Linked DNA regions of Homo sapiens: all the other regions are linked to region 3. The links come from fine-mapping of genetic effects on gene expression. A gene starts in region 3. Each other region holds a variant in brackets. All regions are shown on one strand. Distances are between the middles of the regions.

Region 1 (4,167 bases), 43 kb after region 3:
TTAAATATTTTCTTTCCTGATTCATGCTTTTTATGTCTTCTCTAAGAAATCTCTAAGGGTCAGGCCGGGCACAGTGTGGCTCATGCCTCTAATCCCAGCACTTTGGGAGGCCAAGGTGGGCGGATCACGAGGTCAGGAGATTGAGACCATCCTGGCTAACACGGTGAAACCCCATCTCTACTAAAAATACAAAAAATTAGCCGGGCGTGGTGGCGGGCGCCTGTAGTCCCAGCTACTTGGGAGGGTGAGGCAGGAGAATGGCATGAACCTGGGAGGCGGAGCTTGCAGGGAGCCAAGATCACGCCACTGCACTCCAGCCTGGGCAACAGAGCGAGACTCTGTCTCAAAAAAAAAAAAAAAAAAAGGAAAGAAAAAGAAATGTCTAAGGGTCACGAAGATTTTCTCCCAAGTTTTCCACTAAAGTTTTCCAGGTCTCGCTTTTAGGCATCTGGTCCATTTCAAGTTCACGTTTGTTGTGGTATGAGCGGGGTCCAGGCTCAGGTTTTGTGTGTCTCTCTCTAGTTGTCCCAGCACCACTTGTTGAAAAGACTGTCCTTTCCGTATTGAAATCCTGTGACACCTTTGTCAAAGATCAATGTATTGTGTGTGTGTGTCTGTTTCCAGACTCTCTATTCTGTTCCGTTGATCTTTTTGTCATTCTTTCACCAATACCACATTGTCTTTCTAACTAGAGCTTTATGGAAAATCTTGAAATCAGATAGTCTGAGTCTTTGATGTTGTTTTACAAAATTATTTTGGTTACTCTAGGTCCTTTAGGTTTCCATTTAAATTTTAAAACTTGCTTGTCAATTTCTGGGGAAAAAATGCCTTCTGGGATGTAACTGAAATTACATTGAATCCATAGATCAGTTTGAAGAGAATTGAGGCCTTAATAATATTAAATCTTCTGCTTCATGGACATGGCAAATCTCTCCAGTATCAGTATCTTTTTTTTTTTTTTTTTTTGAGTCAGAGTCTTGCTCTATCACCTGGGCTGGAGTGCAGCGGAACAATCTCAGCTTACTGCAACATCCGCCTCCTGGGTTCAAGTGATTCTCATGCCTCAGTGTACCAAGTAGCTGTGAACACAGCCACACACCACCACGCCCGGCTAATTTTTTTTGTATTTTTAGTAGAGATGGGGTTTTGTCATGTGGGCCAGGCTTCCTTTCTCTATTGATAGTGTCTTATCCTTTGAATAAGTTTTTATTCAAATAGTCAGAAAGTACTTTCTTCTTGGACTAGAATAATACCTTCCATATTTTTCTCACATCTCTCCCCAGTCTTTCAATTCTCTTTCCCAAGCAACCTGTTACTGTTTCATAAAGGTCTTTCCAGATAGATTTCGTTCATACATATGCATTATTCTCGGGTGTTTATCTCTCCACTTAAAAATCACCCGCGGCCGCTTAGTGTGTCCCGCTCTGCAGCTTGGTGTTTCTTGTGCTGTGTCTTAGAGTTATTCCATGTCAGAACACATAGAAATCACCGTTGTTCTTTGCAGTTCTCTTCACACTGTGTTCTAAATGATGCCTGTGCCATAATTTAATCATCCTCATCGATCCATAATGAGGCCCTTTCCTGTTTTTTGGCTTTTTCTGATCTCATCAGTGGATCAATAAATATCCACACACATTAAAAATAGATACTGGATCACCAGGCACGGTGGCTCATGCCTGTAATCCCATCACTTTGGGAAGCTGAGGCAGGTGGATCACTTGAGGTCAGGAGTTCGAGACCAGCCTGGCCAACAGGGCGAAACCCTGTCTCTACTAAAAATA[CA/C]AAAAAAAAAAAAAATAGGCAGGCATGGTGGCACACGCCTGTGGTCCCAGCTACTCAGGCAGCTGAGGCATGAGAATCGCTTGAACCCAGGAGGTTGCAGTCAGCCGAGATCGCGCCACTGTACTCCAGCCTGAGTGGCAGAGCGAGACTCTGTCTCAAAAAAAAAAATACTGGATGGCCAGGCGCAGTGGCCCACACCTGTAATTCCAACACTTTGGGAGGCCGAGGCAGGTGGATCACTTGAGGTCAGGAGTTCAAGACCAGCCTGGCCAACATGGTGAAACCCCATCTCTACAAAAATACAAAAATTAGCTGGGCATGGTGGCACACACCTGTAATCCCAGCTACTTGAGTGGCTTGAGGCTGCAGTGAGCTGAGATCATGCCATTGCACTCTAGCCTGGGTAACAGAGTGAGAGACTGTCTCAAAAAAAAAAAAAGAAAGAAAGGAATGAAAGGAATGTTTAAAGTACCGCAGAACATCTCAGAATAATAGGAAAACATGCCTCACACACACAAAATTCAAATCCTCATGCTGAGGCGTAAGAATGACTTGAACCCAGGAGGCAGAGGTTGCAGTGAGGCAAGATCGTGCCTCTGCACTCCAACAAATACAGGATTTGAATCTGATTATTTCATTTGAATCAGTATTTTAGATCTGATTATCCGATATCTGTGTTTTAGAGCTTGACGTTAATTACAGGTATCTCATCGCAGCATGCCGAGGGGAAAGACAATAGAATTTGAAGTGGGCCCACTGGTGTTCCCTCAGCCACGCTGTTTCCTGCAGACCTTGGGCTAGTGATTGAAATGCTCTGAGTCTCAATGGCCACATCTGTAAAGCTGGACTATTTCCTTCCTAGGATTATTGTCATGGTTAAGGAAGGTGGGCAGATGAGAACCCCTAGCCCAACGTCTGACCCATGCGTCACTTTCCTTCTCCCCATAATCACAGTACAAAAGAGTTGTCAACTTGGGCTTTCAATAGATAATAGTTCTCTTGATCTATTTGAAAATAATAGTCAAGATTTGGCTATTGGCTGCAAAAATACAGTGAGGGAGAAGGAACAAGGCCCAGTGTTCAATAGCATGTCACAGTGACTACAGTTCACGGTAAGTTAGTGTATATTTCTGAATAGCTAGAGGAAAAGATTTGGAATGTTCTCAACACGAAGGAAGGATCATGTGTGAGGTGATAGATGGCCGGTTCCCCTGATTTGATCATGACATGCTGTATGCTTGTGTCAAAATATCGCATGTACCTCTCAAATATGTGCCAATCTATCCATAAAAATTTTTTAAAGATTTGGCTGCTATTAAAAGAGTTGGTTTCCTGCTGGGTGCAGCGGCTCACACCTGTAATCCCAGCACTTTGGGAGGCCAAGGCAGGCACATTGCTTGAGCTCAGGAGTTGGAGACCAGCCTGGGCAACACGGTGAAACCCCATCTCTACAAATAGAGTTTAAAAATTAGCCGGGCATGGTGGCGCACACCTGTAATCCCAGCCACTCAAGAGGTTGAGGCATGAGACTCGCTTGAACCCGGCAGGCGGAGGTTGCAGTGAACCGAGATCGCACCACTGTATTTCAGCCTGGGTTACAGAGTGAGACTCTGTCTCAAAAAATAAATAAATAAATAAATAAATAAGAGTTGGCTTCCTAATTTATTTCTCTGTGCATTGAGTTCGCCTTAGTGAGCTCCCTCGTGTGGGGCGCAGCTCTGTGCACTGGCTCTCTGATGTCTCACACGTAACTGGCTCTCCCCGCTGCATTTCTACAGAGGATGCCAGCATCAAGCCAAATCCACCGACGGCGAGATTGAGGCCTATAAGAAATCCATCATGAAGGAGGAAGAAAAGAACGAGAAGCTGGCGAGCATCCTGAACCGGACAGAGACGGAAGCCACACTGCTGCAGAAGCTCACCACCCAGTGCCTGACCAAGCAGGTGGCCCTGCAGAGCCAGTTCAATACCTACAGGCTCACCCTGCAGGACACAGAGGATGCCCTCAGCCAGGACCAGCTGGTGAGGCCGGGCCCGCCCCACAGGTCACACCTGGCGCACGGTGGTGCCTCTTCAGGCACGTGCACCCTGTGGCTCCTTGTCTCCAGGAACAAATGATACTCACGGAGGAGTTGCAGGCCATCCGCCAAGCCATCCAGGGCGAGCTGGAGCTCAGGAGGAAGACGGATGCTGCCATCCGGGAGAAGCTGCAGGAGCACATGACCTCCAACAAGACCACCAAATACTTCAACCAGCTCATCCTGAGGCTGCAGAAGGAGAAGACCAACATGGTAGGCCCCTGCCCCAGGGAGGGGCTGTGCGAAGCCCCCTGCAGCCTGGGCATATGAGGGCAAGCCGTCCTGGAGGCGGAGAGGGCGGAGTCAG
Region 2 (4,167 bases), 24 kb after region 3:
GATACTGACAGGTGGACAGCCCGGATTCCTATTCCTTCCCTGGCTAGTGGGTGACAGAAGGCCTCGCAGGGTTCAGGTACTCTAGTCGCTTCATGACCGCCAAGGCCAGCTTGCTGCGGGGATGCTCAGCAAGTTCCTTAGCCTGCAGGGACCTCTTCCGGGGAGGACTGAAGTCTTTCTAACAATTCTCACCCCCGTGGGCAGCCGGCCTTCCGGGTAGCTCCTACATCTCTGCACCTCGTGGAGTAGGGAGTGGAGGGAACGAAGGGGGTGAAAGCTGCTCCCTCTTGGCCCCAGATTCAGGTCTGTAGTGGTAGCACCAGAAACCAAAGTTACTGCAACTTAAAAAAAAAAAAAAAAAAACTATGAGTCACCATCTTCATTCACGGGTGCGGGAATGACACGGAGGAAACAATTAACTTTTTTTTTTTTTGAGACAGAGTCTCGCTCTGTCGCCCAGGCTGGAGTGCAGTGGCACAATCTCAGCTCACTGCAACCTCCGCCTCCCAGATTCAAGCAATTCTCCTGCCTCAGCCTCCAGAGTGGCTGGGACTACAGGCGCCCACCTCCATGCCCAGCTAATTTTTGTATTTTTAGTAAAAACAGGGTTTCACCATGTTGGCCAGGTTGGTCTCAAACTCCTGACCTCAGGTGATCCACCCACCTCGGCCTCCCAAAGTCCTGGGATTACAGTCATGAGCCACCGTGCCCAGCCAATGAAAAAGAAGGAAGAGGACTTGAAGGAACGGATGAGCACGCTGGGCTCCCAGGGTAAAGGGAGGGCCCGGGGCTGGGCGTTACTCAGCACTGGTCTCTCCAGCTACAAATGCAATTAAAGTAGAGCACGTCCCAATCAGAATCTCAGGAACAAACAATCCCTTAGTTAACAAAACAATTCTGGAGTTTTATCTGAAAAATAAATTAGGAAGGCTAGCCAAGAATGGTTTTGGAAGAGAAGATTCAAACGGGGCAAGCAGCCATCCCAGTCTGCTCAGGACTGAGGGGTCCCCAAGACAAGGGACTTTCCATGCTAAGCCCAGGGGGTCCTGGACACAGCAGGATGGCAGATCACCCTAGCATCGCCGCACCAAATATTAAAGTATACAGTAAAGCTCTGGCCAGGCAAGGTGGTGCACACCTGTAATCCCAGCACTTGGGGAGGCTGAGGCAAGAGGATGGCTTGAGCCCAGAAGTTCAAGACCAGACTGGGCAACATGGTGAGACCCTGTCTCCACAAAAAAATAATAATTAAAAAAAAATAAAACATTAGCCCACCATGGTGGTGTGCACCTGTGGTCCCAGCTACTCAGGAGGCTGAGGCAGGAGGATCACTTAAGCCCGGGAGGTCAAAAAAAAAAAAAGAACAACAACACTTTATTCTCAACGAATTGATTTTAAAGTTCACTTAGAAGACTAAATGCTCAAGAATACCCAAGAAAATTTTGAAAAGGAAGGATCATGAAAGATCCTTGAACTATGAAAGATCCAATGAAATATGATCATACCACTGCACTCCAGCCTGGGCTACGGAGCAAGACCCTGTCTAAAATAAAACAAAACCGTAAAGTTCTAGAGGCTAAAATAATGTGTCACAAGATAGACAGGCAAGACATTGAAGCCTATGAGAGAGCCCCAAAGCAAGCCAGAGTTTATATAAAAACCTAGTAGATTATAAATTACCAGAGAGCTAATGAATTATGCATCCAATGATGTCGGGACATTTGGTTAATCATTTGGGAAAAAATTAAATCTTTTCCTCATACCAGACACTAAAATAAATTCCAGATGGAATCAAGTATTTAAATGGGGGAAAATGTGCCAGACGAAAACAAATGAAAATATTTATATAATCCTGGGCTGGGGAGGCCTTTCAAAGTATAACACCAAAAGCAGGAACCTTAAAGGAAAAGACTAGGAGGGGC[C/T]GGGTAAGGTGGCTCACGCCTGTAATCCCAGCACTTTGGGAGGCCGAGGCCGCTGGATCACCTGAGGTCAGGAGTTCGAGACCAGCCTGGCCCGCATGGCAAAACCCCATCTCTACTGAAAATACAAAAATTAGCTGGGCGTGGTGGTACACGCCTGTAATGCCAGCTACTTGGGAGGCTGAGGCAGGAGAATCGCTTGAACCCAGGAGGCAGAAGTTGCAGTGAGCCGAGATCATGCCATTGCATTTCAGCCTGGGCGACAGAGCCAGAATCCATCTCAAAAAACAAAACAAAACAAAAGACTAGGAGGACAATCACACCCTCAATAAAACCTTTGTAGATTAAGGACGCCACAAACCAGATGAAGGCGGGGAGACAGGCAGGAGAAGACAACTCGCAGCCATTAGTAAATCCGGGGTTGTGAAGAGAGGCTGAAAGCCAAGGAGACTCGCCCTGTGTGCTTCCACACCCTGGAGGCAGGTGGGCTACTTGGTAGATGCTTCCTTTTGCACCTCCCGCCCTCCCCTCGATGCAACTTCCCCAGGGAAGGGGGCCGCCCGCACTTCCTTCATTTCTCATTTCCAGTACCCAGAACAGTGCGGGGGCAACAGCAGGGCCCCTGTTCATCGAGCGAAGTCACAAGTAACCAAAGGACAGGGAGTCCCCTACAGAGTTGGCAAAGATAAGGAGAGATGAGCCCTCCCTGCTGTCGGCCATGAAAATACAGATTGGCCTTTATCTTTATCAAGATCTTCATCCAGGGCGATATGATCATATGCAGCCACTCCCTCCCTAACCCTAACCCTAACCCCGCACCCTGTTAGTGCTTAGACTCCATTCCAAGGAACCTAGCAAAGACCTATGCAGATAACATTTTTGTATGTTAAAAATGATAAAGCCAGGCTTGGTGGGGTGCACCTGTAGTCCCAGCTACTCAGGAGGCTGAAGCAGGAGGAGCACTTGTGCCCAGGAAGTCAGGGCTGCAGTGAGCTATGATTGCACCACTGCACTCCAGCCTGGGTGACAGAGTGAAACCCCCGTCTCTAAAGAAATAAATACAGTGAATAGAGACTCATGGGGGAGATGACGCTCATCACCGTGTTGTGTCATCAGAAAGAAAGACCCCAAGAAGAGGACATTAGTGAAACCCATTTTCATACACCTGTGCATCAGAATACACTACACCAAAAAGAGCTCTACTGACATGGAAACCTGTCTCGATATTAATTTCTTATTTTAATTTTTTTTAAATTATACTTTAAGTTTTAGGGTACACGTGCACGATGTGCAGGTTTGTTACATATGTATACATGTGCCATGCTGGTGTGCTGCACCCATTAACTCGTCATTTAGCATTAGGTATATCTCCTAATGCTATCTCTCCCCCCTCCCCCCACCCCACAACAGGCCCCGTTGTGTGACGTTCCCCTTCCTGTGTCCATGTGTTCTCATTGTTCAATTCCCACCTATGAGTGAGAACATGCGGTGTTTGGGTTTTTGTCCTTGCAATAGTTTGCTGAGAATGATGGTAGAGACTAAGTCTCACTCTGTCCCCCAGGCTGGAGTGCACTGGGGCCCTCATGGCTCACTGTAGCCTCAAACTTCTGGGTCCAAGCAATCCTCCCACCTCAGCCTCTCAAGTAGGTAGGACTATAAGCACATGCCACCACACCGTGCTAATTTTTTTATTATGATTATTCTTTTTGTAGAGACGGTGTTTCTTTTTGTTGCCCAGACTGGTTGGGAACTCCTGGCCTCAAGTAATCCCCCCGCCTCAGCCTCCCAAAGTGCTGGGATTACGGGCATGAGCCACCGCACCTGGCACAATACATTAATTTTTAATATGGCGGGGCATGGTGGCTCACACCTGTAATCCCAGCACTTTGTGAGACCGAGGTCGGCAGATCACCTGAGGGTCAGGAGTTCGAGACCAGCCTGGCCAACATGGTGAAACCCCGTCTCTACTAAAAATTCAAAAATTAGCCAGGCGTGGTGGCGAGTGCCTATAATCGCAGCTGTTCGGGAGACTGAGACAGGAGAATTGCTTGAACTCAGGAGGCGGAAATTGCAGTGAGCCAAGATCGTGCCATTTTGCTCCAGCCTGGGTGACGAGAGTAAAAGTGTCTCAAAAAAAAAAATTAATAGGAGATTATGAAACAATATATAGAATTTGATTTCGCACACACACACAATCACAGGTGTAAGAAGTTAGAAATGGTTATCTCTAAGTGTTAGGGTTATTGAA
Region 3 (4,167 bases):
TCGCAGAGGCTGGCCAATCAGCCCAGCTTCTCATTTGAACTTGACCCAGACAGTAAAACAAACTTTACCATAAGGCGAGACTAACTTTTGTTATGTCTTTTCTATTCATTTCCTATTTCTGAATCAAATCTGAACTACTTTGTGGCCAATATACGACACCAGCTTCCGAGTGTGGGAATCACAGGATTTCAGGATTCAGCGGCTTCCGGCAGGATCCCCTAGGTTATGTTTAGCAATCTTCAGTTGCCTTTCCTTTTTTTCTTTCCTTCCTTTCGTTCTTTCTTTCTTTTTCTTTTTTTTTTTTTCCCAAAGGAAAGAACAAGGGAGCCCAGGCGGAACGGAAGTGAGTATCCCGACACGCGGATCTTAAACAGCCCAGACCACCAAGCCCGACAGGCCGGGAAAGCTGAGCGCGCGCTGCTGGGGGGACGCACACTTTGGAGGCTGTGTGGGCGCGCGCCGGCACCCCACAAGTTCTCATCCGTCTGCTCCGCCGATTCAGCCAGACAAAGACCGCAAGTTCCCCGGTCCACCGCTCCAGACAGGCGGGGACCAGTCTCCCCGAATTAGGCCCATTCCGGGCCCGGGCGCCCTCACTCGCCGCGGGGAAAAGTCCCCAGGTGCCCCTCCGTGATCCAGGTCCTCCCACAACGCTCCCGCTCCTGCTGGCGCCCCGCACCCCGAGGACGGCGGCCGGACCCCGGCCCCTCCCCGGTCCCGCGGCTGCAGGCCCACGCGCCCCACGCGCCCCGCGCGCCCCCGCCCCAGCTCCGCCGAGGGGGCGCTGCTCGCTGCGCGGTGGACCCCTCGGACCCCGCCCCCGCGGCCCCGTCCGGGCCCCGATACCCACCCGGGTCCCGCTGCGGGGGCCGGATTCGCGCCGGCTCCGAGAGCCGCCACCGTCGCCTCCGCCGCTGCCGCCGCCAGTGAGGCGCGGCGGGGCGGGGACGCGCGGGGAGGCCCGGCCCCCGGCCCGCCCCCGGGCCCGCCCCCGGCCCGGCCCCTGCCTGCCCCCGCCGGTCTCCCCGCCCACCTTCTGGCCCAGCCCTGGGCCCAAGCCTCTAGTTCCCTGCTGGCCCTCCCTCAGGCCTCGCCGCGTCCCGGCCTCGGGGACTGTGCCCCGTCCCGAGCCTGGCGTCCCCAAAGGAAAGGCAGGGCTCCTCGGACGCTCCGCGTGCGCGCTGGCCCTCCGCTGCCGCCCTCTGCAGGGAGATTTCTCCTATTTCGGACTAGGAAGGGAAGATACGCTCCGGAAGACCCCCCGGGCGTCCATGCAAGGAGTCTCCGTAGGACCCCTGGAGAAGGGCACCGGAGCCCCCTAGGGCAGGAGATGGAAAAGCGCTCGCCATGCGCGGGGTCCCCGGCCCCCGGTGCCCCCAGCCCGCCTGCCATTCCCGGGCGCTTAGCAGTCCGGGGTCCCCAGGTGCCCGGCAGGTCCCTTCGGGACCTCGAGCCGCCCGCTGGGCACACGCTGACGCCGCTGTCGCTTTACAGAAATTGAGCGCAGCCGAGGCGGGACCCGGGCGCAGAGAGCGATAAAGGAAAAGCATGGTCGTGCTCTAATCATTACAGTCTAAGGGACGACACGTCGAGACGGCGCGCGCCTCTGCGTGCGTGGAGATGGCACAAAGGCCGCGCCGCCCCCGGCGGCCCCCGCCCTCGCAGCGCGCGTGGTCCCGGCCCGGCCGGATGTTGACAGCGTCGCCTAGCAACGGGAAATGGCGGAACCGGGCGGCGCGGCGGGCCGGTAAGCCGGGCCGAGGGGCAGCGGGTCTTGGAGTCGCCAGGCCGCGCTCTCCGTTCACCGCTCCAGGTGGCCCCCGCGTCGGCTCCTGCCTCGCCCCTTCGCCTCCACTCCCCCTTCCTCTCGCCTGTGTCCCTTCTCTCGCCATTTTGCTGGCCTTTCCCGTCCACTGCGTTCAGCCCCTCACCCCCCCGCCAACCCTTCTCACTTCTCCCCTCCTGTCCCTTTGTCCTCTCTCGGCCTCCCTCTTTCCCCTACTCCAAGCGCGCGACTCCCTCTAAAACCCGGGACCGCTCACTCTGCAGTCACCATGGCAACCACTCTGCGTGGCGGTCCCTGCGCGCAGTCCTCCTAAGAGTAGAGGGCTCTGCAGGGCGCGGGGCTGTTGGATACCGCCCCTGACCTTGCTCCGGGGCCACTCGCTGTGGCCGGAGACCAGCCCGGCCCCGCGCCTCCCTCCTGCAAGGACAGATCCCCTCTCGCAGGCTTGGGGGTGACCCGCGATGGGAGGGGTCCCTGCGGTTAGGCGGCCCGCGATAGTCCGCGGTCACCGTCCTGGGGCCTGGGTGGAAGCACTGAGCGCGCACAGGGAGGGCGGCTGAGTGAAGATCCCTGCCACCGGGCCTCTGCTCGCTTAGGCTCTGTTTAAAAGGATAGAAACGATTGGAAAGAGTTTGGCCTTTTTACCTTAGACACATCGGTATTGTTTCATTTTTTTAAAGGTGGGTCTGTATGTATTGACATGGAAAGACTAAAGGTATTATTAATAAAACGATAGGCATAAATGTAAAAGGGTAGGTATACTATGATCTCTAATTCAGGGTGTGTGTGTGTGTTTAAAACATAGAAAAATGTTGAAAGAATGTGGTCCTAAATGTTATCAATGATTATCTTGGGAAGGAAAGGGAAGATCACAGGGAACTGTCACTGTCTGTCTCTTTGAACATATCTATATTCCTTTGACAGATAAAAATAGCTTGAATCTTTAATTTTTTAAAAAAGATATACATATATATATATATATATATATATTCCTGTGCTACGTAAATCGTGGAGAAACTCAGAGTCCCCAGAACACTTACTCTGATCGCGCTACTTTCTCTACGTTGTATTTCTTTTCCCCAGTTTTGTCCCAGACACAAGTTATATTTGAGGTGACTTTTCTGGGGTGATCTAATCCTGCTGTTCCTTCGATGTTTTAATAATTATATTTTTCATTCATTCATGGAGCTTTGCTTTTGTGGCATCTCCGCCACCTGACAGGCATGATATAGTGCTATGGTTCCTGACAAACAGGACAAAGACGTGACAACAGCCTGGGGGTGGCAGAGAAGTAACAAGTAAATAAACAGATGTGCAGAATTCAGGAGGGGATAAGGACCAAGAAAAAGAAAGCTGTTGCTTGAAACTGTTCAATTGTTTCTCTAAAACCAGGTCCCATCCGGAAGATGGATCGGCTTCTGAGGGAGAGAAGGAAGGGAATAATGAAAGCCACATGGTAAAATTCCCTATGGGCAGTTATTCCGGGCTTATATTTACTAGGAATTAAAGAGAATCAGAGTACGGGCACTGTGGCTCACGCCTGTAATCCCAACACTTTGGGAGGCCAAGGCAGGTGGATCACATGAGGTTAGGAGTTTGAGACAAGCCTGGCCAACATGGTAAAACCCCATCTCTACTAAAAATATAAAAATTAGCCGGGCGTGGTGGTGCGCACATGTAGTCCCAGCTACTCGGGAGGCTGAGGCAGGACAGTGGCTTGAACTCGGGAGACAGAGGTTGCAGTGAGCCAAGATCACACCATTGCACTCCAGCCTGGGTGACCAGTGAAACTCTATCTCAAAAATAAATAAATAGGCCGGGCACGGTGACTCACGCCTGTAATTCCAGCACTTTGGGAGGCCGAGGCAGGCAGATCACGAGGTCAAAAGATCGAGACTATCCTGGCCAACATGGTGAAACCCTGTCTCTACTAAAAATACAAAAATTTGCCAGGCATGGTGGTTCACGCCTGTAGTCCCAGCTACTCGGGAGGCTGAGGCAGGAGAATGGCTTGAACCTGGGAGATGGAGGTTGCAGTGAGCCGAGATTGTGCCACTGCACTCAGCCTGGCGACAGAGCGAGACTCCATCTCAAAAAATAGATAAATAAAATTAAATTAAAAATAAATAAATAAAGAGAATTAGGACTTGGTCAAGTATATTGTATGATGACATTATCTTGCACCAGAACAAACTCAATTCAGTTGAAGAGAGACTCATTTTCTTCCTACCCCATTCTACAGTGTCAGTGATTAGTCAGGGATGCAAAGGATGTCCAACTTTGGGTTGCCCTGAGTTTTTCGGAACTCATTTCCTGTAACAAAGGATGCAAAAATGATTATGAAAAGCAGAGAGGGCCAGGCATGGTGGCTCACGCCTGTG

What was found.
Region 1: its variant is fine-mapped to the expression of CCDC40 in subcutaneous fat (FUSION, PIP 0.95).
Region 2: its variant is fine-mapped to the expression of CCDC40 in tibial nerve (GTEx, PIP above 0.99).

What each region holds. Positions count from the first base shown.
Region 1 is chr17:80,077,986-80,082,152 of GRCh38, forward strand. It overlaps CCDC40 (coiled-coil domain 40 molecular ruler complex subunit), which reads left to right. Exons shown (of 20, transcript NM_017950.4): 11 at 3,561-3,804; 12 at 3,891-4,073. Among named protein-coding and RNA genes, the nearest start is that of MIR1268B, 19 kb to the right of the region's middle. The variant CA/C (reference allele first, on the strand shown) is at 1,782.
Region 2 is chr17:80,059,145-80,063,311 of GRCh38, forward strand. The region is part of intron 9 of CCDC40 (coiled-coil domain 40 molecular ruler complex subunit); the gene reads left to right. LOC124904074 (a long non-coding RNA gene) reads right to left here. Exons shown (of 2, transcript XR_007065931.1): 2 at 1-341. Among named protein-coding and RNA genes, the nearest start is that of CCDC40, 25 kb to the left of the region's middle. The variant C/T (reference allele first, on the strand shown) is at 1,923.
Region 3 is chr17:80,034,945-80,039,111 of GRCh38, forward strand. CCDC40 (coiled-coil domain 40 molecular ruler complex subunit) reads left to right here and starts at 1,698. Exons shown (of 20, transcript NM_017950.4): 1 at 1,698-1,747; 2 at 3,179-3,242. The coding sequence starts at 1,719. It overlaps TBC1D16 (TBC1 domain family member 16), which reads right to left and starts at 928. Exons shown (of 12, transcript NM_019020.4): 1 at 851-928. RefSeq lists a silencer at 927-996 and enhancers at 1,187-1,306, 2,206-2,500.